Homo sapiens: one gene and its partners. The protein of the gene in region 2 purifies or fractionates together with the protein of the main gene of each other region. This does not show direct contact. Each region holds a gene or a part of one and is shown on either strand. Other genes may lie near its edges. The genes, in order: HDLBP, UBE4B, VPS4B, ZRANB2, PDS5B, USP34 and FAM114A2.

Region 1 (3,500 bases), on a different chromosome or scaffold from region 2:
AGACCACGTCTTCTCATGACTTCCCATGGATTCACGTGGATGCCCTCAAATCGATTTTCTTTCCTTCACAGAGGGGAGAAGAGAGCTGACCCCTTAGACTGCATTTTCATTTTTCCTGATCCCTTATACAGAATGCATTTTCTTTCTTTCTCTTGCTTTCTTTCCTCTCTCTCTCTCCCCTCTCCTCTTCTCCTTCTCTCTCTCTTTTTTTTTTTAAGTGCTTCTCGCAGGCAGAATTCTCACCAACTATCAGGAAGGAGGCCAGACAGGCTGAGGAAAGAAGAGCGAGCACCAGAAAGCCCCTTCTGAAGCCTTCCAGGGCTGTATGAGGGAGTCACCTCCCTACAGGGTGGAGCGAACACTCATACACGGCTTCGGTGAGTGGCCACTGGGGGGTGAGAACCCCTCCCCGAGCACCCAAGTGCCTACCAGGTCCTCAATGATCTCCTGAATGCGTTTCTTGGCTGCCTCCACACAGTCCTTGGCGCCCTTGAGGGTGACTTTGTCGCTCTGTGTGCCAGAGCGTGGGAAGCTGACCATCACCCCGCCATACTCTTCAGCAATCTCCCGCAAGACCTGGCCTCTGCGGATGACGAAGTGGCGGTGGTGCTTGGGGTCCACCAGCATGGAGTCTTCCACCACATTATCCTGCAGTGTTAAGAAGAGATGGAAGATAAGCCACCCCATCACGGCCCCAGCAGAGTCGGCCGCCGAGGCCCGCTCCCTACCAGGTTTTGGATCAAGGCCTCCAGCTCCTTCTGTGCCTCTCGGACGGCGTCCTCCTTTCCAATGATGGTGATCAGGTCCTGGTCCTTGTCCTCAGCCGCAGGGAAGATGACACGTGCTCCAGTGCTGTCGCGCACCTTGCGAATTTTGCCGCCCCCCTTGCCGATGAGGAATTTGTGGTATTCTGGCTTGGCGCGGATGTCAACAGTGAAACTCTTGGTTTGCTGCAGAAACCAATCCCACTGTGTTAGCCTGACACCACGTGCCTGGACCACAGTGAGGAAGACAAGAGGGTCTGTAGGACAGCAAGCTCGGGCTCCCCTTACATTGTCACCAGTGTCCTGATGTTGCACCAATACCCCCAAAATGGGGCTAGCACACCTCACTGAATAAACAGATGAATACCCAGACTGCACACCTACTTCTCTTCCACAACAACCAGATGCTGGTGGGATGAACACACAGGCTTAGAACCCTGGTCCTGCCACTTACAAGCACTGACCAAACTTCTCCAAGCCATTTTTGATCTGCACAGGGGGAGGTGGGAGCAACGCGCCGGACGATATGTTGGCGGAGTGCACGTCCTGGGGAGCGTGGGGTGTGCCCAGCAGAGCAGGAAGCAAGCTGCCCAAGAGGTGTGCACCATGCTCCCACTCTTCTACCTGCTTCCAGACCAAGCACACACAAATCTGGGCCAGGCTCCCTTTCTTCCCACGAGTGCTACAGATCAGCCTCCACAAAACCAGCCACTCCCCAGGCTCAAGCTCAAGCTCAGAGGGACACAAGCCAACCAAGGCTACAGTTAGAGACCGGTCCTCAGAGGCCTCGTGTAGTGCGACGCCCTTGTGTGGCAGTAAGAAAACGAGGGTCCTGGAAAGGCCCCGGACACTGCTTGTGGACACCAGTGCTTCTGGCAGACCCACGCAGGGGCCCCGAGAAGGGCGCTGCTCCACGGGACTCAGGTCCACACGGGGAGCTCTTGCCTTTCTCCGGACCCAAGATCTGGCCCGCAAGCAAAAATACCAAAGAAAAACATGCTAGCACAAAAATATTAAATAACAACTTTGCTACCTTTTAAGTGCAGGTTTCACCAAATACCACCTAGAGACTCTGCTACTTTTCAAAGACATCCACAAATAGCAGCATTAGTCAAACATTAGGCAATCAATTAGGCAAATGCAATCTAGCAATATGGCCAAAGACAACCTACCAAACCAAGCAGGGATTACCCCAGAAACGCAAGGCTGGTTAAACACAAAGACAAAAACATCAATCTAATAACAACAACAAAAAAGACAAGAAATACAAGGCTCCAGATTAGAGAGAAATGTAACTGTCCACAGACCACGTGATTGTGACATATAAAATAAGGATCCACAAAACAGTGGGCCGGGCGCAGTGGCTCACGCCTGTAATCCCAGCACTTTGGGAGGCCGAGGCGGGCGGATCACGAGGTCAGGAGATCGAGACCATCCTAGCTAACACTGTGAAACCCCATCTCTACTAAAAATACAAAAAATTAGCTGGGTGAGGTGTCGGGCGCCTGTGGTCCCAGCTACTCGGGAGGCTGAGGCAGGAGAATGGCGTGAACCCAGGAGGCGGAGCTTGCAGTGAGGCGAGATTGCGCCACTACACTCCAGCCTGGGCGACAGAGCAAGACTCCGTCTCAAAAAAAAAAAAAAAAAAAAAAAAAAAAAAAAAAAAATCCACAAAACAGTGACTGGCGCTAATATACATGAGCTTTATTTAGCAGCCTCGTGAAGGTCAACATACAAAAACCACAGGCACTTCCATGTGCTAACAACTGGAAATGGAAAAAAAGTGCCATTTACAATAGCACTAAAAGAGTAACAGTAGTTAGATCTGTTAAGTCGAACATAAAAATGTGCTAAAAATTATAAAACACCAATAAAGAATCACAGACCTAAAAAAAATGGAGAAATGCCTGCAAAAGTCAAAACTGCTGAGCTGTCAATCCTCGCCAGTCTCATCTTCAAATTTCACACAATCCCAATCAAAACGTGAAAGTGCTTTTTTCCTACAAATTGACAGGCTGATCAGCAAGGGGTGTAGAACAGCCAAAGTTAAGAGGGCTCACACTACTGATTTCCAGACTTCCCATAAACCTGGTGTCACCAGAAGAGCCCGGAAACATACCCACAGATGGGTTTTGACACAAGGACAACAGCAATTCCATGGGCAATCTTTAGGGGTGATGGAAAATGAATTTTGATGATTGTGGTCACATGACTGCATGTTACTTAAAACTCAACTATACCTGAAGAATGGCCAATTTTACTGTAAATCATATTTAAAAAACAAAAGCACCCCAAAACTAATAAGCCAAAGACCAACTTTTATATATTGCATATGTGAGCGTTTGGACCTGGAAAGGCCCTCCAGTAACAGCAAAAACAAAGACGCATAAACAGTACATTATAGAGCTGTTTTCTGACCCGCCACAAAGGAAGGGCATTCAGGGGTTTCCACAGTGAGAAGCGAGAACACTGTACTGAGGACCAGGCTTCCTGCCAAGAGTCACGCTCCCTCCCCATGCTCACCTTCTCCTCCGCCAGATGCAGGAGCTGCTTCTTGGCCTTCTCCACATCCGAGGAAGGGCCCCTGATAACAACGGTGTCGCTTCCTGAACCTTCCACGGGAAAGTGAATGTGGACCCCGCCGCACTCCTCCATGATGGAGCGGATCAGACGGCCCTTGGTGCCAATGAGGGAGTTGTGCAGCTTGGCAGGGATGGAGACCTCTACCTCGGCTAT
Region 2 (3,500 bases):
CCACTTCAGCCTCCTGAATAACTGGGTCTACAGGTCTATGCCACTATACTGGCTAATTTTTTATTTTTTTTGTAGAGACAGGGTCTCCCTATGTTGCCCAGGCTGGTCTCGACCTCCCTGGCTCAAGTGATCCTCTTGCCTCAGCCTCCCAAGTAGCTGAAACTATAGGCATGCACCAGCCACCATGCCCAGATGACTTTTGTATATTTTGTAGAGATGGGGTCTCATTATGTCGCCAGGGCTGGTCTCAAATGCCTGGGCTCAAGTGATCCTCCCACCTCGGCCTCCCAAAGTGCTGAGATTACAGGCGTGAGCCACCATGCCCGGCCTCTTTCTCCTCTTTATTTCCCTCAAGAGCATCAAAACAAGTTGCTCCACTTCTTATCATGTGACATTGTTTCTCTAGGTGACAGCATCAGCATGCTCCTGCATTAGCAATATAACAATGTAACTTGATTACCTCTGTTAAGAAAAAAATAATAATACAACAATGATAAGAATGATAGTTAATATTGGTTGAGTGATCACTGTGTACCAGGCACCACTCTAACAGCTTTATATATAATAAACCCAGTACCAGTAGTACCGCAGCTTAGCAGATGAGGAAATGGAGGCACAGAGGAGTCACTGTCTAAGGTCCCGCAGTTAGTAAACGGTGGAACCACGATCAGAAATCACAAGATCTGTGCTCTTCTCTCTACATGATTTTTGCTTCTGAGTATACACATCACATCATTCATTCATTATTTATTACTAGTCAAGGAAGGATGCCCTTTTCTCCTCTGGCAAAGCAGCTGCAGCCACTGGCCTGTCTCACCCGGACCGAAGCACTCACGCCCTTGCAGCTGCCTTCTTGGGTCTGTTCCTGGCTGCCCCCTTGGGTCTGTTCCTGGCTGCCCCCTTCTGTTTTGGTCCGTCTACATAGCAGCTTTTGTGGTTTCCCTGCTGAAAACCCTCCCATGACAGTTCTGATCACGTAAACCTAACCCGATGGCGCCCTGCCTATCCACTAACTCCAGGACCCGACATTCCCTCCTGTTCACTCTTCTCCAGCCACAAAAGCCTGCGTGCTGGGCTTGTACCAAAGCTGCTTCGTTTCCACATTGGATAGCTCTTTTCTCAGCCACTACAATGGCTGGCTCCTTCCTATGAAACAAATGTCACCTCCTCAGGGAGGCCTTTCCTGCCACCCAATCAAAAATCACCTTCAGATCTTCCTTCTGGTACCTACAGTTCTTCTCATGTCATTTACTTTGCTCTATTTTCTTCACTGATTATACAACTGTCTAAAATCATGTATTTATATGTCTACTTGTTTATTCTGTGGAACATGGGCTCCACAAAAGCAGGAAGCTCGTCTACCTTGTTCAATACTGTACCCCCACTCCTAGAACAGTGCCTGGTAGGTGCTGACTAAATCTGGGTCAGATGAATGAATTTGACAAACAGCGAAAAGCAGTCTGTAGGAATCCTACCTGCATCTGTGCTTTCTTCATATTGGCATTGACGACAGCCGCCATGTAACTGAGAGCAGCCTCACGGGTTTCGCCATTTAACAAAATACTATGCAGAATCTTAAAAAGCTCTTGCTGAAATTTATTTTTAAAAAGAAGAAACAAATTAAAACTATTTTGCACATGATTCCTTTTTGACTTCACGAACAGCTAGCCTACTTCCCACGTTCTCTCCTCTCCCACTTCTACTCATTTTAGAAGAGCCTGAGTGAAAGAATATAAGAAATATCCACATCCAACTATGTCAAAGTAATGAGCATGAAAGCAGAATATGGAGTGGGGGAGGTAGGCAGTTACAGTTTTTTGTTTTTTTTTGAGACAGAGTCTAGCTCTGTTGCCAGGCTGGAGTGCAGTGGTGCAATCTCAGCTCACTGCAACCTGCGCCTCCCAGGTTCAAGCCATTCTCCTGCCTCAGCCTCCCGAGTAGTTGGGATTACAGGCACACGCCGCCACACCCAGCTAGTTTTTGCATTTTTGTTGTTTTTTTTTTTGAGACGGAGTTTTGCTCTTATTGCCCAGGCTAAAGTGCAGTGGCACATCTCGGCTCAGTGCAACCTCCGCCTCCCGGTTTCAAGCGATTCTCCTGCCTCAGCCTCCCAAGTCGCTGGGATTACAGGCACCCGCCACCATGCCCAGCTAATTTTTTTTGTATTTTAGTAGAGATGGGGTTTCACCATGTTGGTCAGGCTGGTCTCAAACTGCTGACCTCGTGATCCACCTGCCTTGGCCAATTTTTGTATTTTTAGCAGTGACGAGGTTTCACCATGTTGGCCAGGATGACTTCCTGACCTCGTGATCAGCCCATCTCAGCCTCCCAAAGTGTTGGGATTACAGGCATTAGCCAACACGCCCAGCCGGCAGTTACAGTTTTAATAAAATAGGCTTTGTTACTTCTTTCCCATGATCAAAATTACCTTAGTTACCCAAGCCTGTAACTTCTTTGCCTGTTTCTTTTTTTTGAGATGGAGTCTTGCTCTGTCGCCCAGGCTGATGTGCAGTGGCGTGATCTTGGCTCACTGCAACCTCCACCTCCTGGGTTCAAGTGATCCTTGTGCCTCAGCCTCCCGAGTAGCTAGGTAGCTGGGATTACAGGCACGCGCTGCCATGCCTGGCTAATTTTTGTATTTTTAGTAGAGACGGGGTTTCGTCATGTTGGCCAGGCTGTTCTCAAACTCCTGACCTCAGGTGATCCACCCCACTCGGCCTCCCAAAGTGTTGGGATTACAGGCATGAGCCATCACACCCGGCCCTTCTCTGCCTTTAAGTTTGAGAATTGAAGACATATTAATCTGCATTTGGGATAAGCAAGTCAGTGAGGGTGTGTGCAAACTAACAATCCTTGCTCACCCTCACAGTGTAAATGCCTAAGGGCCAGCTGGAGGAGGAGCCGGGCCACTAAGCTTAGGACCAGTTCCCAGTGATGCTACATACAAAGGCAGCATACTGCTGTTGTTACAACCTGTTATTCAAGACACAGGCTACTTACTTATAGTTTATCTTTTTTATGTAAGATCGAATTGGCTTTTGTTAGCCGTTTGTCTACTGGGCATAGTCCAGTCTACAAAATAAAAGCTCTGTATCTGGAGCTCATCTTTGATACTTCCTCTGGATTTGTTTTCTGAACACTTACCCTTCCGAGCTCTAAGTAATGCTGCAATGATTGGCTAACCACACGAGTGTTTTCCAGGGTAATGGCAGGCCCTGAGAAGTATTTTTCAACCACTTTAACCTGGAAAGAGAAGGAAAAAATGCAGTCAACATATAATGCACATTTGGGAAAGAATCTGAATAAAAGGGCAGCAAAGTACAAGTAGCCACTATACTTACATCATCTTCTGCAAAGACTGAGAAGCTAAAGAAAGCCCCTAAGTAAGAGAGTCTCTGCAGCTCCCGCCCACAGCCAGGACTTAAGGATTTCGGCAACCACAACCGCAAAGAAGCAACCTAGGCAGAAGATGGAAGAGCCAGTCAAGCCGCTGAACAGGC
Region 3 (3,500 bases), on a different chromosome or scaffold from region 2:
AGAAATAAAATACTAGTAAATGCAAAAAATAAACAGGGAATCTTCTTCTTGTTAACTGAAATAATCAGCTTTAAAAGAAGTAAAGGATGGAGCCGCTGAGAGGTCTGCTGCAGCTGGTGATCCCCAGCTGCAGAGATAAAACTCATCTGGCTGTGTCACCTTCATCCCACTAACAAGGACCTGGCTTCAGCGTCATGTGAGCTCACCCTGGCAGTAATATGCAGAATTGAGTGACAAACTCTCAGTAGGAAAGGACTGAGTTCCTATGCATTTATAGTTTCTAAATGGCAAAGAGAATTTAAGAAAAAACATAATGGCTGTGGCATAAACTTAACAGTACTTCAGTAATGAAATGGCTGAAGAAGGGTGGATGAGTAACATTCCCTACGCATCTGAAGTACCACGACTGGTGTTTTATGAGTATTATATCACTTCATTATTGGAAAGGACTTCAAAATAGCATTATCACATCCCCATTTTAGAAATGATAAAAATGAGCTTTAAAGAAGTAATAGAATTTGCTCAAAAAGGTATAACAAGTAAATGGTGCCAGGCTTCAAATTCAGATTTTAATTCAAGCTTGTTAACTTAAAAAAATCTTATTATGGTACATGATAAATATACGTATGTGACTTAGTCATATTAGTCTTGACATACATTATGAGATTAGGTTTGCTAATAGTTTTTCACATGTATGTTCATGAGTAATACTGGATACTGTTGTTCACAGCAAAAGGGTTGGTCCAGATTACCTAGTTCATTGTTACTCAAACTGGGTATCTCAAGACCACAGCCTTCTTATAAAACTTTATCTCAGCCACAGATGCTTAACTTGTTCTTGCAGACAAAACAGAACACAGGAGGGGCAGGATAGCAGAATGGCTGAGATTTCAGATTTGGAAACACACCTCACCTCCAGGCAAATCACATGTCTGTCCCACTCTAGCTACTGTGTTAGCACCTACGTCCAAGACTAACCACCATTAGGTGGCTGGCTACATGTACCTCTCTTGCTGATTTTTGTGAAGACCAAATGAAATAGTAAGATAAAAGACAGAACACAGTGCCAGGCATGTGAATATTTAAAAGATATTAGCTATTATTATTTTTACTTTATGAGGTATAAATGCACCAGATTCTACTCAAAAATATTCTAGATGTGTCAGAAGCAGCCTTACATCTGTACATTTAAGTTTCTATACTTATATCAAAATAATACACAAATACTTCAAAAATCATTTCATAGGAAAATTTAAAACACATTAGGATGATTAATAAGGCCTTTTCTTTTTTTAAGACAGGGTCTCACTGTGTCACCCAGGCTGGAGTACACTGGTGCAATCTCGGCTCACTGCAACCTCCACCTCCTGGGCTCAAGAGATTCTCCCACTTCAGCCTCCCAAGTAGCTGGGACTACAGGAGTGTGCCACCACATCCAGCTAATTTTTGTATTTTTTACAGAGATGGGGTTTTGCCATGTTGCCTGAGGCTGGTCTCTCCTGAGCTCAAGAGATCTGCCCACCTCGGCCTCCTAAAGTGCTGGGATTACAGGTATGGGGCACTGCACCCAGCCAAAAATGGCCAATAAATAAACTTTATTAAAGAACTTGTTTCAGTGACACAGAAATATGTCTATTATGTAAACCCACTTATGGTATTATTATACAACACTGAAATCCTCCCAAATTCTTTGAAGACAAACCAATGACGGTCTTGAAACTTGATTTTAAAAATACAGGAAAAGGGCCAGGCGCAGTGGCTCACGCCTTTGGGAGGCCGAGGTGGGTGGATCACCTGGAGTCAGGAGTTCGAGACCAGCCTGGCCAACATGGTGAAATCCTGTCTCTACTAAAAATACAAAAAATTAGCCAGGCGTGGTGGCACACGCCTGTAATTCCAGCTACTCAGGAGGCTAAGGCATGAGAATTGCTTGAACCCGGGAGGCGGAGGTTGCAGCAAGCCCAGATAGTGCCACTGCACTCCAGCCTGGGCAACAGAGTGAGACTGTCTCAAAAAAAAAAAAAAAAGATAGGAAAGGATAGATAAAAATGACTTACCTTTTTAAAATGAGTAGCTGACTGTACTTTCCTAACAGGCTGCATAAGGGCATCACGTACAATGATACTTATATCTGCCCCTGAATAACCATCTGTTTTCCTCCCAAGTTCCCGAAAGTCTGCTTCCGTGAGACTGTTCTGAGTGGTCCCTAGGTGCAGTTTAAACATTGCTGCTCGGGCATGGGGTTCCGGCAAGGGAATATAAATTCGTTTCTCAAATCTTAAAAGAGAAATTACATCAAGAATATATTTAATTGAAAATTAGGATATTTCCAAGAAGAAACAGATACTAAGTTAAGTGGGCCTGTATGTGCCAAGGTTAAACATATATATTTAGGTTAAAGGGATAATATCCAGAACACATTAAAAACAAACAAATAAAATCAAAATAGCCTGGGAGCCAGTTTGAAGTGGCTGAATCTTTCGTGCATTTTTGGGTTATTTTGGCCACAGTGTTCCTATGTCTGGAATTCATGAAATAAAAAGAGGTCCTACAGGGTTACAGTTTCCCACAAAATTGTACTCTGAACTCTTGATCAAGGGACTAATGATTAACAATATAAAACAGGAGTAGAGATGACACAGTAATTCTCTACATTCAAAACAGAATTACCTCACAATCTTATAGGATATATATTACACAAAATGTCCACTTTAATGAATACATCCAGAACAATCCTATATTATAAAGAATAAACACTATGTTTCATTAACAATAATTTTGCTTGCTTTCTTAGAATTTCGGTATTTGGAGACAGAGAAGCAACGATGAGGGATAATTTAAGTGGTCTGAGCAGACTGTTTTTTCTCCAGGTAACTCTCTGTGACAATGAAAAGAATTTAAAGTTTCCGTTGCCTCTAGAGATGGGTGCAGAATAAGGCAATTTTTCAAAAATACCCTGCACATTTCCTTTCTTGGTACTGGATGGTAAGCTAGAATGCTGGCGCAAATCATCAAGTGAATGGGATAAAAGTGGCAAAAACTGAAGTGCTAATTTTTACCATACAAAATAAATGAATGTAATACAGAACTGTGAAGAGTGAAAAGTGAAGAGTCCGTATACCTTTCCTAGAACTGAAGTTTCATTTTCAACTTAAAAATTAGATAGATAGATGTGTGTGTGTATACATATATACATATACACATATACATATATACACACACACACACATATATATATATATATATATTTTTTTTTGAGATGGAGTCTCACTCTGTTGCCCAAGCTGGAGTGCAGTGGCACAATCTTGGCTCACTGCAACCTCCGCCTCCTGGGCTCAAGCGATTCTCCCACCTCAGCTTCCCGAGTAGCTGGGACTACAGACAGGTGTGCGCCACCATGGCCAGGTAATTTTTTTGGATTTTAGTAGAGACAGGGTTTCACCACGTTGCCCAGGGTGGTTTTGAACTCCTGAGCTCAGGCAATCTGCCTACCTTGGTTT
Region 4 (3,500 bases), about 61 Mb from region 2:
TCTGTGATTCTACACCCTGAACAATTAATTCAACTCCTGAGAACATATTCTAAGGAAAGAATCCAAAAGAATAAAAATCACAATGTACTAAGTTTGTTTTTATGCCATTATCTTTAATGGTTTTTTTTTTAAAAAAAAGCTGACAAAAACAAAAATAATCCTAAATCCTGAAACAGAGAAGTAAATTACTGAACAATTTGATGGAATTATGCAGGATAAGCCAGCAGCAATCTTTCAGAGGTAGTGAATCACATTCTCTTTTATTCATATCCTGTCTCATGCTTAGGAAATGCTCCCCAAACCCTGCACTGCTTTATTACAAATAGCCAAAAGAAAGCGGAAAGCAACAGAGTAAGTTATTTCACACCTTCAACTGTTACCAGCAAAGACAAATACTTGTAGCAAGGGAAGTGAGAAAGGTTCAAGACACCAGAATGACTGAAAAATGACAATAAGAAAAGTGAGAAGTTATCAAATAAAATTTGCTTACTTCTCTGTTAAACTATAGTTCTTGTGATAATGAAACTATAAAGGAGTCAGGAAATAGGTCAAAGTTTTTTTAAGTTTTGAAACTGTTAAAAAGATTTTAGACTTTATCCTAAAAGCAATCAAAATGGGTTTTTTAAAAAAGGATTTTAAATTTGGAAATAAAAACATGTAGAAACCAGCTAGGTGGCTATTTTTCCACAAAACATAGTAATTCTTTGCCTAGGGTGGTAATGGAAAAGAATTTTTGGGGTATGGGAGATATCAAGAAAGGGCTATTTAGGCTAAGAAGGACATCTAGATTTCCAGCTTATGTAATAAATGTATGGTGAGTGGTACTAATCATGAGAAAGAGATCATTGGAAGAGGGTCAGGTCCCAGGGGTAAAATCACAAATTCAGTTTGAATATAATGAGTTTGACATTTGCATGGCAATGTTGAATAGGCAGCTGGATATATGGGTCAAAGAAGTCTGAGCTGGAGACATAAACTTGGGTTATCATGGCAAAGTTACTTAAACTTTGGGCTTAGAAGAAAACACCATGAAAATAGAGGAAAGAAAGAGGGCCAGGGATGGCTGCGAAGAATCCCAACATCAGTGGCCAAAAGAAGAGAAACCTGCAAAGGAGACAGAATAAACAATCAATCAAACGGGGGTTGGTGGGGGCGGTGAAGGAGGTACGGTGCATACCTTAGGTGAGGGAAGAAAAAAACGAGATCCTTGTCAGAAGGCCTTAACTTACCCAATCGGTGGAAAGGCAAAATCACTTCCTAAGAATAAGGCAGGATTTGAGGGTTGAAAGTGGCGGTTGGGCTGGGGAAGGGGGGATCAAGGACATTATGTTATAATGTTCTCACATATGAGAATGTAAGTTTTAAAAAAGGGGTGGGGGGGGATAAAAGTAGAATTTCTGTTGAAGTCTGGAAGAGCTAGGTCGAAAAGATTGAACAGTGGCCCTCTGATCCCTAGAAACTAAACAGACAATGAAAACGGCCTAAAGTTAGAGAGGCAAAGAAAACAGGGAAGCAGTTCACCAAGCCTAAGTCTGACAGGGTGACTAGATATAGAAGGAATCCTTTGATCATGTGACATATAAGCAGTTGAAAGACAAAATCAGATTTTAAGTAAACAGATAATGTGGTTGGGCTAATTGGTGATAATGGAAAAACTATATGCTATTAGGTAAACATTTTCATTTCACCAGTAACATACAAAGCCAATGATCAACTATTATTTAGGCCAATGATTATCAAACACCATCCAAAAAACCTGCAGATGTTGGAAACCCACCGCCAAATAACTTTAACAGTTCTGCATTTTGCAATCGATATTTGAAAAAGTTTTTCAGATAATCTAGCACATAGCTTAAGTTTCAGAATTACTGCCAAAGCTTTAGAAGAACACTTTAAATGGTGTGGCTTTGCCCTTTAAGTCACAGCAGGCTATCAAAAGAATTTAAAAATGGTATCATTATATCATTACTAATAACAAACATGCAAACCAGTGAAAGGGAGAGGAGGAGAATATTTCTGAAAGTATTCTTATGTCCCTCCTTGTTAGGATAAAGGTCCCTAACACTGTTATTTTATAAATTGTGAAACAAAAGATTTGTATGTGTGTATGGGGGGAAAAAAATCCCAGTAACAAACATTCAGGGCAGAATAAACAGAATCCTCACTTACTGTGGCTCTTACTCGAAGGTGATACAATTATCGTTTCAATATTTAGTGCTTTAAAAAAAATCATTTAGTTACAATGTGGTTTTATCATACCTGTTCTTTCTTCTAATTTAGCATACTTTGGAGTATTACACATATTACACTCTGATCTTCTGGCCCAATTCACATTGCTGCAACTTTAGAAGTGAAAAATACTAAATTAGTAGGCTATAATATAGATGAATATCAAATTTTTAGATATTTTACAATTTTAAAATAAAAACTAGGATGAAACCACTGTCAAAGAAATGTTTATTAAGTGGTAATGTAAACAAAGAAAATGTACAGTGGCCTGAAGAGTAAATGTGGGTTCCAACAACGGACTGAACCATTTAAGCAGAGAAGCAAAATTTATATAGTATGAAAAGTGCCTCTGTCATTTTGAGAAGTAAATGACAAATTATAACCACAGGTCGAGTATCACTAATCCACAAATCCAAAATCCAAAAACGTTCCAAAATCTAAAACTTTTTGAGAGAGGACATGACACTCAACAGAAACGCTCACAGGAGCATTTCAGATTTTCAGATTAGGGATGCTGAACCCACAAACATTTCAGGTAAGTGATACTGAACCTGTATAGAAATTCTGATGTCTTATGAAAAAATATAACTTTAAATTAACAGCTCCACTAATTTCTCAGTCTCTGAATATACCTTAAAGAGTATGGTTATACCCTATAAATAATATTAATTTATTTTTTTGAGGTCTCAGTTCAAGCACTGAATTCCAAAGCATACCAAATCCAGTGACCAAATCTGTAGCTGGAAACTTTTCCAATACAAATTTATAATCCTGAGGATCAGAAATTTATTTAAGACTCTAGGGTCAGGAATAGTGGCCCATGCCTCGCCTGTAATCCCAGCACTTTGGGAGGCCAAGGCAGGCAGAATGCTTGAGCTCAGGTGTTCGAGGCCATCCTGGGCAACATGGTAAAACCCTGTCTCTACCAAAAATATAAAAAAATGAGCCAGGCATGGTGGCATGGGCCTGTGGTCCCAGTTACTAAGGAGGCTGAAGTGAGAGGATTGCTTGAGCCTGGGAGGTAGAGGTTACAGTGAACTGAGATCGCCCCACTGCACTCCAGCCTGGGTGACTGAGTGGGACCTCATCTCAAAAACAAAAAATACAAACAAACAAAAAGAGAAATTTATTTAATACTTTTTTGATTTAGACCTCTTTCATACACATAGGATTCATCTGCATAGAGAAAAGATGGAAGTTGGAAAAATCAATGAAGAATTAAATCTAAGCCTGAAAATAAAAATCATTAAGAAACCTACCTATAATTAGAC
Region 5 (3,500 bases), on a different chromosome or scaffold from region 2:
ATCAACTATAACTTTGTTCCTTTCTGTCTCTATAATACATAGGCAAAACACTTTCATTTTGTATTGAATAGAGTTTTACGTAATTAAGTTTAAAACTGAGCTACTGAAGCTTTCTTTTAATTTTTCCCTTTTTAAGCAAAGACAATGCTTATAATTGTCAATCTTGACTTTTTCTCTCTATTATTGAATATTCTTAACTGTTCATATTTAATAAGGCAGTTATATTCTCTTGAAGAGTTCCCATCAGGACTGTAGTCAGTCTTGAGTATCTGAGGCCTCACTTGATCCGTGGCCCCACTATTCCTTTGACAGTCTTTAACTCCCTGTCATAGCTGAGGGTTAAGATAACTTCATCCTTTCTACCATTTATGTTTCCCCTTTAACCCGCCTCCTTGGAAATCTGGTGAGATTTTAAGAAGGGATCTTATAAGCTCATATCTGCATTGTTGACCTGTTTTTATATGTTTGTATGACATATTCTTTTTCCCTGCTGGTTTGTAACTGTTTCTTTTTTTTTTTTCTTCCTGGAGTTATATTATCTAGGTTTGTTATATTTATATTTAGAATTATTGTATCTATATTTAACAAAGGATGATTTTCTTCTATATTTCTTTTTTCCTTTTTTTTTTTTTTAGATGTCTTTGGTTTGTTCTGGAAATATTAATGGCTAAAAATGAAAATAACAGTCACGCTTTTATCAGAAAGATGGTAGAAAATATTAAACAAACAAAAGATGCCCAAGGACCAGATGATGCAAAAATGAATGAAGTATGTAATTCTTTGTAAATAATTATGGTTCCATATTGATTTAAAAATTTAGGTGTAAAGTATGAAACTTCTGTAGTATTTATAGATAGCATCAAATAATTTTTTCTATTAGTAATTAGAATTACGTAGAATTAGCAGTAATTTTATTACAAGTAAATGAGCAAAACCAGTAGTGTAAGCTAAGATGCTTACACAGACTGTTGCTTTCATTAGTTTGCTATTCAGACTGGATTCATGTTCTGAAATTATTCCTAGTTTACAGAGTCTAGATTGCCAGCTTAAGTATCTGTGTTTTTAAAAATATACTATTGCAGAAACTGTACACTGTGTGTGATGTTGCCATGAATATCATCATGTCAAAGAGTACTACATACAGTTTGGAATCTCCTAAAGACCCGGTACTACCAGCTCGTTTCTTCACTCAACCTGACAAGGTAGTTACTTTACAATTTGTTTGTGTAAGTTGAAATAAAATGTATTCTCAGCACTGGATTGTAGGAAGATCAGGAAGGATCATGGAAAAATTGCTGTGAGTCTTAAGAATGTGATTTAAGATCAGAACCAGAATATGAGTCAAACTGGAGGACACACATAAGGTTCAGATATTAGGATGATCTGGTGTTTATGTTCAGTTTTAAGACAGTCTTAGAGCGCAGGTAGAAATGTGATCAAAGCATGTGAATCTGTGAATTAATGGCCATTGTTCAAAATGGGAAGGAGAGTGCTGATAGAGATACAGTCTGAAGTTAAAAGCCCTTTATTGGGATTTATAATTGGTATGAGGAAACAAGCAGAGAACAGACACTAGAACATGCCTAAGACCCTGGGAATACTACAAGAGTGTTACCAAACCATGCTCCAAAAACTCGAGTGTGATATAAGATGTAAAAAGTGTTTCCCACAGTCCCTCTTACTCCTTTATAATTTATTTATTTAATTCCTCGTAATTTAGCTGAACATATTGAGTAACAGAGTCTGGAAATAACCACTATCCTCTTTTTGCTTTTAAAGCAAAATGCCAGTTAAGACCTTACCAGTGTATAGAGATTTGGAACAGGCCTGTAGGATTGCTCAGTAGCTAAAAGGGCTGTCACGTTGGTGTGAGCAGAGTAATAGGAATATGTACATGTGGTCTTTCCCCTGAAGGGTGTTATTAAAGAAGCATGTGTTTTCTGATGCACTCTTAGAGCTCTAACATGTTAGAGCTCAAATATGTTTTGTTAATATTAGAGTTGGCATGAGGTTGGTTTAACCTTATTACAGTAGTTAAAATCAGTGACTGAAATTTTGTGTTTCATATGATAATTTAGTTTAAATAAAAAAACTGCTGTTTGCTTTGTTGGCTTTTGAACCACCTGTAGATAGTGTTTTAATATTCACTGACTACTTCTTTTTCTCTTGGTTGTAGAATTTCAGTAACACCAAAAATTATCTGCCTCCTGAAATGAAATCATTTTTCACTCCTGGAAAAGTATGTTTTGAGAATCATTTTAATTTTTATGTGGTAGCTTATTTTAGAGTGATTATTGGCAAAATTGTGTTATTTTGTATTTCTTCAAAAATTTATATTTTCAAGCTGGAAAATATAAGAATTAACGATCTTACATTTACTAGTAAGAAATAATTATATTTACTAGATATACACAAGCTGAAATACACAAATTACTTTTTAGCTTGTAATAAAGTCCTAGGAGACCTGATTCTTAGACTTCTTAGGTTAATATCAAGATAAAAAAAATCTTAAAAGGCTTTTTTTTTTGAGACGGAGTCTCTGTTGCCCAGGCTGGAGTGCAGTGGCGCATCTCGGCTCACTGCAAGCTCCGCCTCCTGGGTTCAAGTCATTCTCCTGCCTCAGCCTCCTGAGTAGCTGGGACTACAGGTGCCTGCCACCACGCCTGGCTAATTTTTTGTATTTTTAGTAGAGACGGGGTTTCACTGTGTTAGCCAGGATGGTCTCGATCTCCTGACCTCGTGATACACCCGCCTTGGCCTCCCAAAGTGCTGGGATTACAGGCGTGAGCCACTGCACCCGGCCAAAAAAGCATATTCTTATGTCTTTCCATGGCAAGAGTCTAATTATCTATTTTCATTGTTGATTATTCATTTCATTTGTTCTCACTTTTTATGTAAGCCGTTTTCTCCAGATAACTAAGAAATTCAACTGTTATGCTGTCTGTATAGTTTTTAATTTGTTCAAGTGATATTTAGTTTATACTTATTACTTTGCTTAAGGATAGACACATTTTTCATGATTTGTAAGTAAATACTTTGAGAGAGATGTTATTTATGGTTCTTTACACGTAACTTTCTTTTGGCTTTAACCAAATAAAAAGAGATGTGCATTTCTCATTTCAGCCTAAAACAACCAATGTTCTAGGAGCTGTTAACAAGCCACTTTCATCAGCAGGCAAGCAATCTCAGACCAAATCATCACGAATGGAAACTGTAAGCAATGCAAGCAGCAGCTCAAATCCAAGCTCTCCTGGAAGAATAAAGGGGAGGTAAGTGCAAAAGAAATGCCACAATTTACATTTAAGGATTCCAGCAAGGCTATGAGATCTGAAATAATATAATCCAAAATGTTTCATGTCAGTAAATGGAAAGTAATGTATTACTTAATTTTTCCATTTAACATTGGTAGTCACAAGTTCATACTTATTTGCTTGCTCATTTTGGATGGGTGCTCTGTCTTAGTCTTTCATTCTTTAGCTTGTTGGGGGTAATCTGTGTTA
Region 6 (3,500 bases), on a different chromosome or scaffold from region 2:
GTTAGCCCAGGAAATCCTCACAATAAAACCATGAGATAGATACTATTGTGCCCATTTTATTTTTAGAGACAGAGTCTCATTCTATTGCCCAGGCTGAAGTGTAGTGGTGCAATCACCACTCACTGCAGTCTTGATCTCCTGGACTCAAGCGATCCTTCCACCTCAGCCTCCCAATTATCTAGAACTACAGGTGTGTGATACCATGCCTGGCTAGTGTTTTTAATATTTTTGTAGAGACAGGGCCCCACTAAGTTGCTCAGGCTGATCTCAAGCTCCTGGCCTCAAACGATCCTCCTGCCTTAGCCTCCAAAGCACTAGGATTATTGTTCCCATTTTATAGATTGAAAAAATGAAGAAAAATTAATTATTTTGCCCATCATAATACCACCACTAAGTGACAGAATCACATTATTTGGTATATTTCACAGATAACCAAAAAGTTTTATGCTGGAGCTTACCCTTTTAAATACCCTAAAATTAGATGTGTAAAATTTCCCTTTCTTAATCACAATTTAGGAAAGTTTCCATAAGCACTCATATCTTTTTTAGGCATTTATTACAAGATGTTGAAAATCTAATCCTGTGTTATCCAATATAATACCAACTAGCCATATGTGACCATTACACACATAAAACATGGTAGGTCTAGGCTGGGTATAAGTAGCTTACGCCTGTAATCCCAGAGCTTTGGGAGGCTGCGGCAAAAGCACTGAGGTCTGGGGTTCAAGACCAGCCTGGGCAACATAGCAATACTCTGTCTCTATAAAAAAAAAAAAAAAAAATTAAGAATTAGCTAGGAGTGGCAACACACACCTTAAGTCTCAAGTGCTCAGAAAGCTGAGGCAGGAGGATTGCTTGAGCCCAAGAGTTTGAGACTACGGTGAGCTATGATCACATCACTGCACTACAGCCTAGGTGACAAAGTGAGACCCTATCTCTTAAAAAAAAAAAAAAAAAAAAAAAAAAGGCCAGGTGCAGTGGCTCACGCCTGCAATCCTAGCACTTTGGCAGGCCGAATCATAAGGTCAGGAGTTCAAGACCAGCCTGGCCAATATGGTGAAACCCCATCCTACTAAAAATACAAAAATTAGCCAGGCATGGGTGGGGGGTGGGGGGCACCTGTAGTCCCAGCTGCTCAGTAGGCTGAAGCAGAAGAATCGCTTGAACCTGGGAGACGGAGGTTGCAGTGAGCCAAGATTGTGCCACTGCACTCCAGCCTGGGTGACAGAGTGAGATTCCAACTCAAAAAAAAAAAAAAAAAAAAAAAAGGCCGGGCCTGGTGGCTCACACCTGTGATCCCAGCACTTTGGGAGGCCGAGGCGGGCAGATCATCTGAGGTCAGGAGTTCAAGATCAGCCTGGTCAACACGGTGAAACCCCATCTCTACTAAAAATACTAAAAAAGTAGCCAGGCATGGTGGTGGGTGCTTGTAATTCCAGCTACTCAGGAGGCTGAGGCACAAGAATTGTTTGAGCCTGGGAAGTGGAGGTTGCAGTGAGCCTAGATCGTGCCACTGCACTCCGGCCTGGGCAACAGAGCGAGACCCTGTCTCAAAGAAAAAAAGAAGAAGAAAACAAATAAATCAATAAATATTTTAAAGAATTAAAGGGTGGCTGGTCTAAATTGAAAAGTGCTATAAGTATAAAATATGCACTAAATATTGAAGACTTGGTAAGAAAAAAAGGAAGGAAATACCTTAGTAATTTTTATACTTATTACATGTGTAAATGGCATTGTGGATATTATTGGTTTAACATGATTAAAATTAACAACCTGGTTTTTTATTGTTGTTGTTCAACGTTTTGCTTTTGAGTCTCACTCTGTTGCCCAGGATGGAGTGCAGTGGTGTGATCTCAGCTCACTGCAACCTCCACCTCCCAGGTTCAAGTGATTCTCCTGCCTCAGCCTCCCAAGTAGCTGGGATTACAGGCGTGCACCACCATGCCCGGCTAATTTTTCTATTTTTAGTAGAGATGGGGTTTCACCATGTTGTTCAGGCTGGTCTCAAACTCCTGACCTCAAGTGATCCACCTGCCTCGGCCTCCCAAAGTGCTGGGATTATAGGTGTGAGCCACTGTGCATGGCCAACAACCTGCTTCATTTTGTGTTTTTAAATGTGCCCAATAGAAAACTTGAAATTATCTATTTGTAGCTTACATTTATAGTTTGCACTATACTACTAATGAATAGCACTAATACAGAATAAATTGCAAATTGAATATAGGATATAATACTTCCCTAAAGGAAATATGAACTGAATATTTATTTTGAAGTAGGCTTACCCATCGTGGTGGTGGTGATGGTGGTGGTGGTGGTGGTGATGCTGTGGACCAATAAATTGTCGACAATTAAATAATTCATTCCCAATAGTCTCCCCAAGGAAGTCCCCAGTTCGTGTGATACAAGACTCCTGAGACCCTTGTGCTATATGAGTAGCATTCATTTCCCCTGAAATATCATGTTCTGGGTCTTCAGAGTGTGAACAAGCATCCAGCATTCGCATTCGATTATCTACTGATGGCAATGATTCAGTGTTAAAAACCAGGTCCTTTCCTGTTCCGCTGCTTGTCCCATTTCTTTCTGACATGCCTTGGGAGTCCCCCAGGCAAATGCCTGCTTGACTCTCTAACTTTCTATTCCGAAGATCTGTACCACAACTGCTTTTGGGAGGATTATGACCATGATCATCGTCTTCATCTTCCTCTTTGAGGGCTTCAATATCTGCAATGTCTTCTGACTGTACCTCACTGCCAGGGCTCCCAGCTGACTGGCTTGCGTGGCTAGAATTAACCTCATTGCTAGATCCATCACTATGCCCACTACTGCTACCAGGACCACTGCTTCCATCTTCACCACTGTTGGCAGTTTCGTCAGAACTTCCCTGCATGGATTCCTGTATTTTGAAACAAATAGATTTAAATAAATATTTAAACCAGTAAGAAAAAAGGTAACCAACATTAATAAACTGTACTTTTTAAAAAGGCTGCCAGTCTTGTTATACTCCTTTGAACAATACAAAATGGAATTAAAAACTCAAAGGATGTCAAAAATATTACGTAAAGGAGAGGACAAGCCCAAACATGAATTATGTATATATACCCAATTCAAATGATAAACACGCCAGAAAGCCAAAAATGCCTATAAAAGAAGAAAAACCTATTTTCATACCTCTGTGTCTGAAAGTCGTTGTTGCACATGTTTGGTTCTATTAATAAGTTGCTCATCCATTTCAATGTCACTACCTCCACTTTGATGTGTATCGCTATTATCACTGCTTTGAGGACTAGCTGCAGGTGACCCTATATAAAATACATTTTTTGTTTTTACTTCTAATTTATATTAACATTGACTTAACAGAATGACATTATCATTTGATTCCTTGACCTAGTTACCAAAGCTTTATGCTAAGTAGCCAAAAATAAAATCTCTAAATATGTTAACATTTGCTCATGATTTCTAAAGAAGATGTAAGATTCAATTAAAAGTCAAGATGTTTAAGA
Region 7 (3,500 bases), on a different chromosome or scaffold from region 2:
TTAGTTATTAGTTACTGGGTGCTAATTTTATGCCAGGCACCATGCTAAGGGATTTACATGTATCATTTCTAATTTTTACAACAACTCCAAAAGTAAGTGATTAGTCCATCTTTAATAATAGTTACCTAAAGTCTTGTGTGTGCCAGATTTTATTTAAAGTCTTTCAAGCAATGGGAACATATCAGTGAACAAGAAAAGTCCCAGTTTTCATGGATTTCAACTTACTTGCTAAATTAAGGGGGAGACTATATACATATACATATATACACATACACACATATGTATACATATACACACATATATATTCATATACATGTAAGTCCTACTTGGTGATATAAGCTAAGACAATAAAGCAGAGTAAAAGGACAGAGAATGGTGGAAGTTGCTATTTTAGACTTTGTGGTGAAGGAAGGCTTTTCTAAAAAGGTGGCATTTGAGTAGACTTGAATTCAGAGAGGGAGTGAACCCCATTTCAAAGAACATTCCAAGTAGCAGAAATAGCCTCTTTTCCGCAGAACAGGCTCCTTTTAGGGTTGTGAGTCTCTCATCCTTAAGGAAGTTCAAGAAGACAAATTAGCCCCCTATTATGGGGTGCTGTAGTGGGATGGTGATGGTGCAAGTAAAGAGGAAGTCTGCAGAAGACTGACAGCCCCTCCCAGTTCTAATAATGGGCACTCTTATACATTTGTTTCCAATGAAAATTCTCATTATTTTAATCAGGACATTTGCTTAGAAACTACTGGGCTTTTTCTTCCCTACCTATGATTATCTATACTATTTTTGAAAAATTTTTGTACAAATCAGCAATAAAATGAGAAAAAAAGAATGGGTTCAGGACACTCAGTCAGACCTGGGGCTAAATCCCAGGCCATACAGCACAGACAGATTACTTAACTCCTCCAGTTTGCATTTCCTCATGATTAAAACTGGACTAATTACTTACTTTTGGAGGTATAAAAATTAGAAATTATACATGCAAATCCCTTAGCATGGCACTTGGAATGGTATAAAATTAGCACTCAATAATAACTATTATTAAGAACTGAGGTTCTTAGAACTCTTCTCTGTTTTCACTTATACCAAATTCCATTCCTATTAAAACTTATCTGTAAAGAAATAGTCTTCAGAGCATGAGTTGGTTAATAAAAAGGGCATATTTATAATATTGATTTATCATGGTTCAATGAAAAGAAAAAAACAACCAAAATGAACAAACCATCTAATATGTGGATGGGTGTGACGTGAATGGTTTCTTGAGAGAGACGTTTATAAAACTTTGGAAACAGGCCAAGAAAACTCCTGCAATTTGCATCATTTAGAGGAATTCTCATTACACTTACTGGGAAAGAGTTTGGCTCCTTTCTATGGCTGTCACTTCCTGCTTCCTGCCATGCAGAACCAATGCAGCTGTTTTGTGGAATAGTTCAATTGAGCAGGCAGTCAGTTCAGCCAGGCTCCGGATTGCAAACGCATGGATATCCTGGATGGAAAAACAAAACAAAGCATAGCAAAACAAAACATTTGGTGGAAAGATACCACCTTACTTCTCTCATACTACAGGATTTGTAGCAGAGACTAATAGTTGCCTTCCAATAAAGAGTGTCTTCTTCTTCCACAGTAGTGATATAATTTTACAGCTGGGCTCCCCTGAAGTCAGGTGTGACGAAGTAACTAAGTTTTGGCCAAATGATTTAGATAACAAGTGTCAGGCAGCAGTTTCTGGGAACCTTCCTCATGACAAAACACACGCGCATCCTTTCTCTCTTTTTTTCTTCACTCCTCCTTTAATCTTATAGTCTGGATCTAAGATGCTACAATCCTAGATCACAAGGTTGAAATTACGGACAGCAGTGTAAAAATAGGAGCCTGGGTCCCTGATTGTGACACATTTCAAATCTACTAAAACAAACAAAAAAGGCTTAGTTGCTTTGGCTACCTCTATTGAATTTTTGTTGACTTGCTCAGTATTTTCTGCTTCCGACTGTTTTTCTCCTTCTTCATTCTCTGCTAATGGCTTGGTCAGAGACTTCCTGATCCATTCGTGGGCGGTATTTCTTGCCTAAATAAGAAAAATATTGGCCATCAACAATTCAATTCAGTTTACCAAAATTACTGTGCACCTACCAGGAACACAATAGCATCCTAGAAGTAAGGGCTCCTGTTCTTACCTGAACGTACCATCTAGCTTTTCAGTCCTTATCCTACTAGTCTCAGCAATACTTATCACTGTGGTCCATCATTCCTTTTCAAAATTCTCTAATTGGTAGTATTTTTTTTTTTTTTTTGAGATGGAATTTCGCTCTTGTTGCCCAGGCTGGAGTGCAATGGCACAATCTTGGCTCACTGCAACCTCTGCCTCCTGGGTCCAAGCGATTCTCCTGCCTTAGCCTCCCGAGTAGCTGGGATTACAGGCGCCCACCACCACGCCCAGCTAATTTTTGTATTTTTAGTAGAGACGGGGTTTCGCCAGGTTGACCAAGCTGGTCTCGAACTCCTGACCTCAGGTGATCCCCCTGCCTCAGCCTCCCAAAGTGCTGGGATTACAGGCATGAGCCACTGCGCCCGGCCTCTAATCAGCTTTTTAAAAAACCAAGGTATAATTTACATAAAGTGCACAAATCTTCAGAGTATGGCTTAAGAAATGTTTTTATGTGTATATGCCTACGAAACCGTGATCAAGATATAGAATATTTCCTCATCCCTAGAAGGTCCCTTCATGTCCCTTCCTAGCCAATACTATTCAAACCATGTCCCCCTCCTCCTGCCCAAAGACAAACCCTCTTCTGCTCACTATAAATAATTTTTCCTAATCTTAAAATGCATAAAAATAGAAATATAAGTTCATTCTAATTTGTGTCTGGCTTAAGCACAACATAATGTCTGTTAGATTTATCCATGTTGCTGCATGTATTAGTTCATTCATATTAACTGCTGTGTAGTATTTCATTTTATATACAGTCATGCACCACATAATGATGTTTGGGTCAACAGCAGACCACATATATAATGGTGGTCCTGTAAGACTGTAATACCATATTTTTACTGTACCTTTTCTATACCATTGTGTTGCAACTGCCTACAGTATTCAGTACTGTAACATGCTGTACAGTTTTGTACAGGAGCAATAGGTTAAACGATATAGCCTAGGTGTGTAACAGGCTACATCAGCTAGGTTTGTGTAAGTACACTCTCTGATATTCGCCCAATGACAAAACTGCCTAATGATGCAGTTCTCATAACATATCCTCATCATTAAGCAATGCATGATTGTATATATCACAATTTATCCATTCTCCTGATAATGAATCTAGTTTTCTTTGGTTTTTGTAACCCCAACTTTCTTCTGTTCTCCTCTGACCTTTATGACCATTTCTCCTCAGTATCTTTTATATATTGATCCTAACTGGCCAGTCTCTTAAACGCCAATATTATTTGGAGGTCTAGCCTTCACTCTTTACTCGTCTCATCCTATTCCCTCTCCATCCATCCTATGCCAGTGG

Evidence for each region.
Region 1: the proteins of UBE4B (region 2) and HDLBP fractionate together in Homo sapiens (co-fractionation; one large-scale study listed by BioGRID). This does not show direct contact.
Region 3: the proteins of UBE4B (region 2) and VPS4B fractionate together in Homo sapiens (co-fractionation; one large-scale study listed by BioGRID). This does not show direct contact.
Region 4: the proteins of UBE4B (region 2) and ZRANB2 fractionate together in Homo sapiens (co-fractionation; one large-scale study listed by BioGRID). This does not show direct contact.
Region 5: the proteins of UBE4B (region 2) and PDS5B fractionate together in Homo sapiens (co-fractionation; one large-scale study listed by BioGRID). This does not show direct contact.
Region 6: the proteins of UBE4B (region 2) and USP34 fractionate together in Homo sapiens (co-fractionation; one large-scale study listed by BioGRID). This does not show direct contact.
Region 7: the proteins of UBE4B (region 2) and FAM114A2 fractionate together in Homo sapiens (co-fractionation; one large-scale study listed by BioGRID). This does not show direct contact.

Annotation. Positions count from the first base shown.
Region 1 is NC_000002.12:241,239,173-241,242,672, forward strand, and holds part of HDLBP (vigilin), read right to left. Parts: coding exon 3,288-3,500; intron 1,137-3,287; exon of another isoform or gene 951-1,136; coding exon 729-950; exon of another isoform or gene 649-728; coding exon 430-648; exon of another isoform or gene 330-429; coding exon of another isoform or gene 219-329; intron 1-218. UniProt on the Homo sapiens protein: Appears to play a role in cell sterol metabolism. It may function to protect cells from over-accumulation of cholesterol.
Region 2 is NC_000001.11:10,130,458-10,133,957, reverse strand, and holds part of UBE4B (ubiquitin conjugation factor E4 B), read right to left. Parts: intron 3,459-3,500; coding exon 3,342-3,458; intron 3,244-3,341; coding exon 3,145-3,243; intron 1,590-3,144; coding exon 1,476-1,589; intron 1-1,475. UniProt on the Homo sapiens protein: Ubiquitin-protein ligase that probably functions as an E3 ligase in conjunction with specific E1 and E2 ligases. May also function as an E4 ligase mediating the assembly of polyubiquitin chains on substrates ubiquitinated by another E3 ubiquitin ligase.
Region 3 is NC_000018.10:63,394,977-63,398,476, forward strand, and holds part of VPS4B (vacuolar protein sorting-associated protein 4B), read right to left. Parts: intron 2,278-3,500; coding exon 2,058-2,277; intron 1-2,057.
Region 4 is NC_000001.11:71,074,536-71,078,035, forward strand, and holds part of ZRANB2 (zinc finger Ran-binding domain-containing protein 2), read right to left. Parts: intron 2,343-3,500; coding exon 2,260-2,342; intron 1-2,259. UniProt on the Homo sapiens protein: Splice factor required for alternative splicing of TRA2B/SFRS10 transcripts. Binds to ssRNA containing the consensus sequence 5'-AGGUAA-3'. May interfere with constitutive 5'-splice site selection.
Region 5 is NC_000013.11:32,757,452-32,760,951, forward strand, and holds part of PDS5B (sister chromatid cohesion protein PDS5 homolog B), read left to right. Parts: intron 1-635; coding exon 636-768; intron 769-1,082; coding exon 1,083-1,202; intron 1,203-2,176; coding exon 2,177-2,239; intron 2,240-3,123; coding exon 3,124-3,269; intron 3,270-3,500. UniProt on the Homo sapiens protein: Regulator of sister chromatid cohesion in mitosis which may stabilize cohesin complex association with chromatin. May couple sister chromatid cohesion during mitosis to DNA replication.
Region 6 is NC_000002.12:61,345,588-61,349,087, forward strand, and holds part of USP34 (ubiquitin carboxyl-terminal hydrolase 34), read right to left. Parts: intron 3,300-3,500; coding exon 3,169-3,299; intron 2,894-3,168; coding exon 2,283-2,893; intron 1-2,282. UniProt on the Homo sapiens protein: Ubiquitin hydrolase that can remove conjugated ubiquitin from AXIN1 and AXIN2, thereby acting as a regulator of Wnt signaling pathway.
Region 7 is NC_000005.10:154,000,911-154,004,410, forward strand, and holds part of FAM114A2 (protein FAM114A2), read right to left. Parts: intron 2,060-3,500; coding exon 1,937-2,059; intron 1,481-1,936; coding exon 1,341-1,480; intron 1-1,340.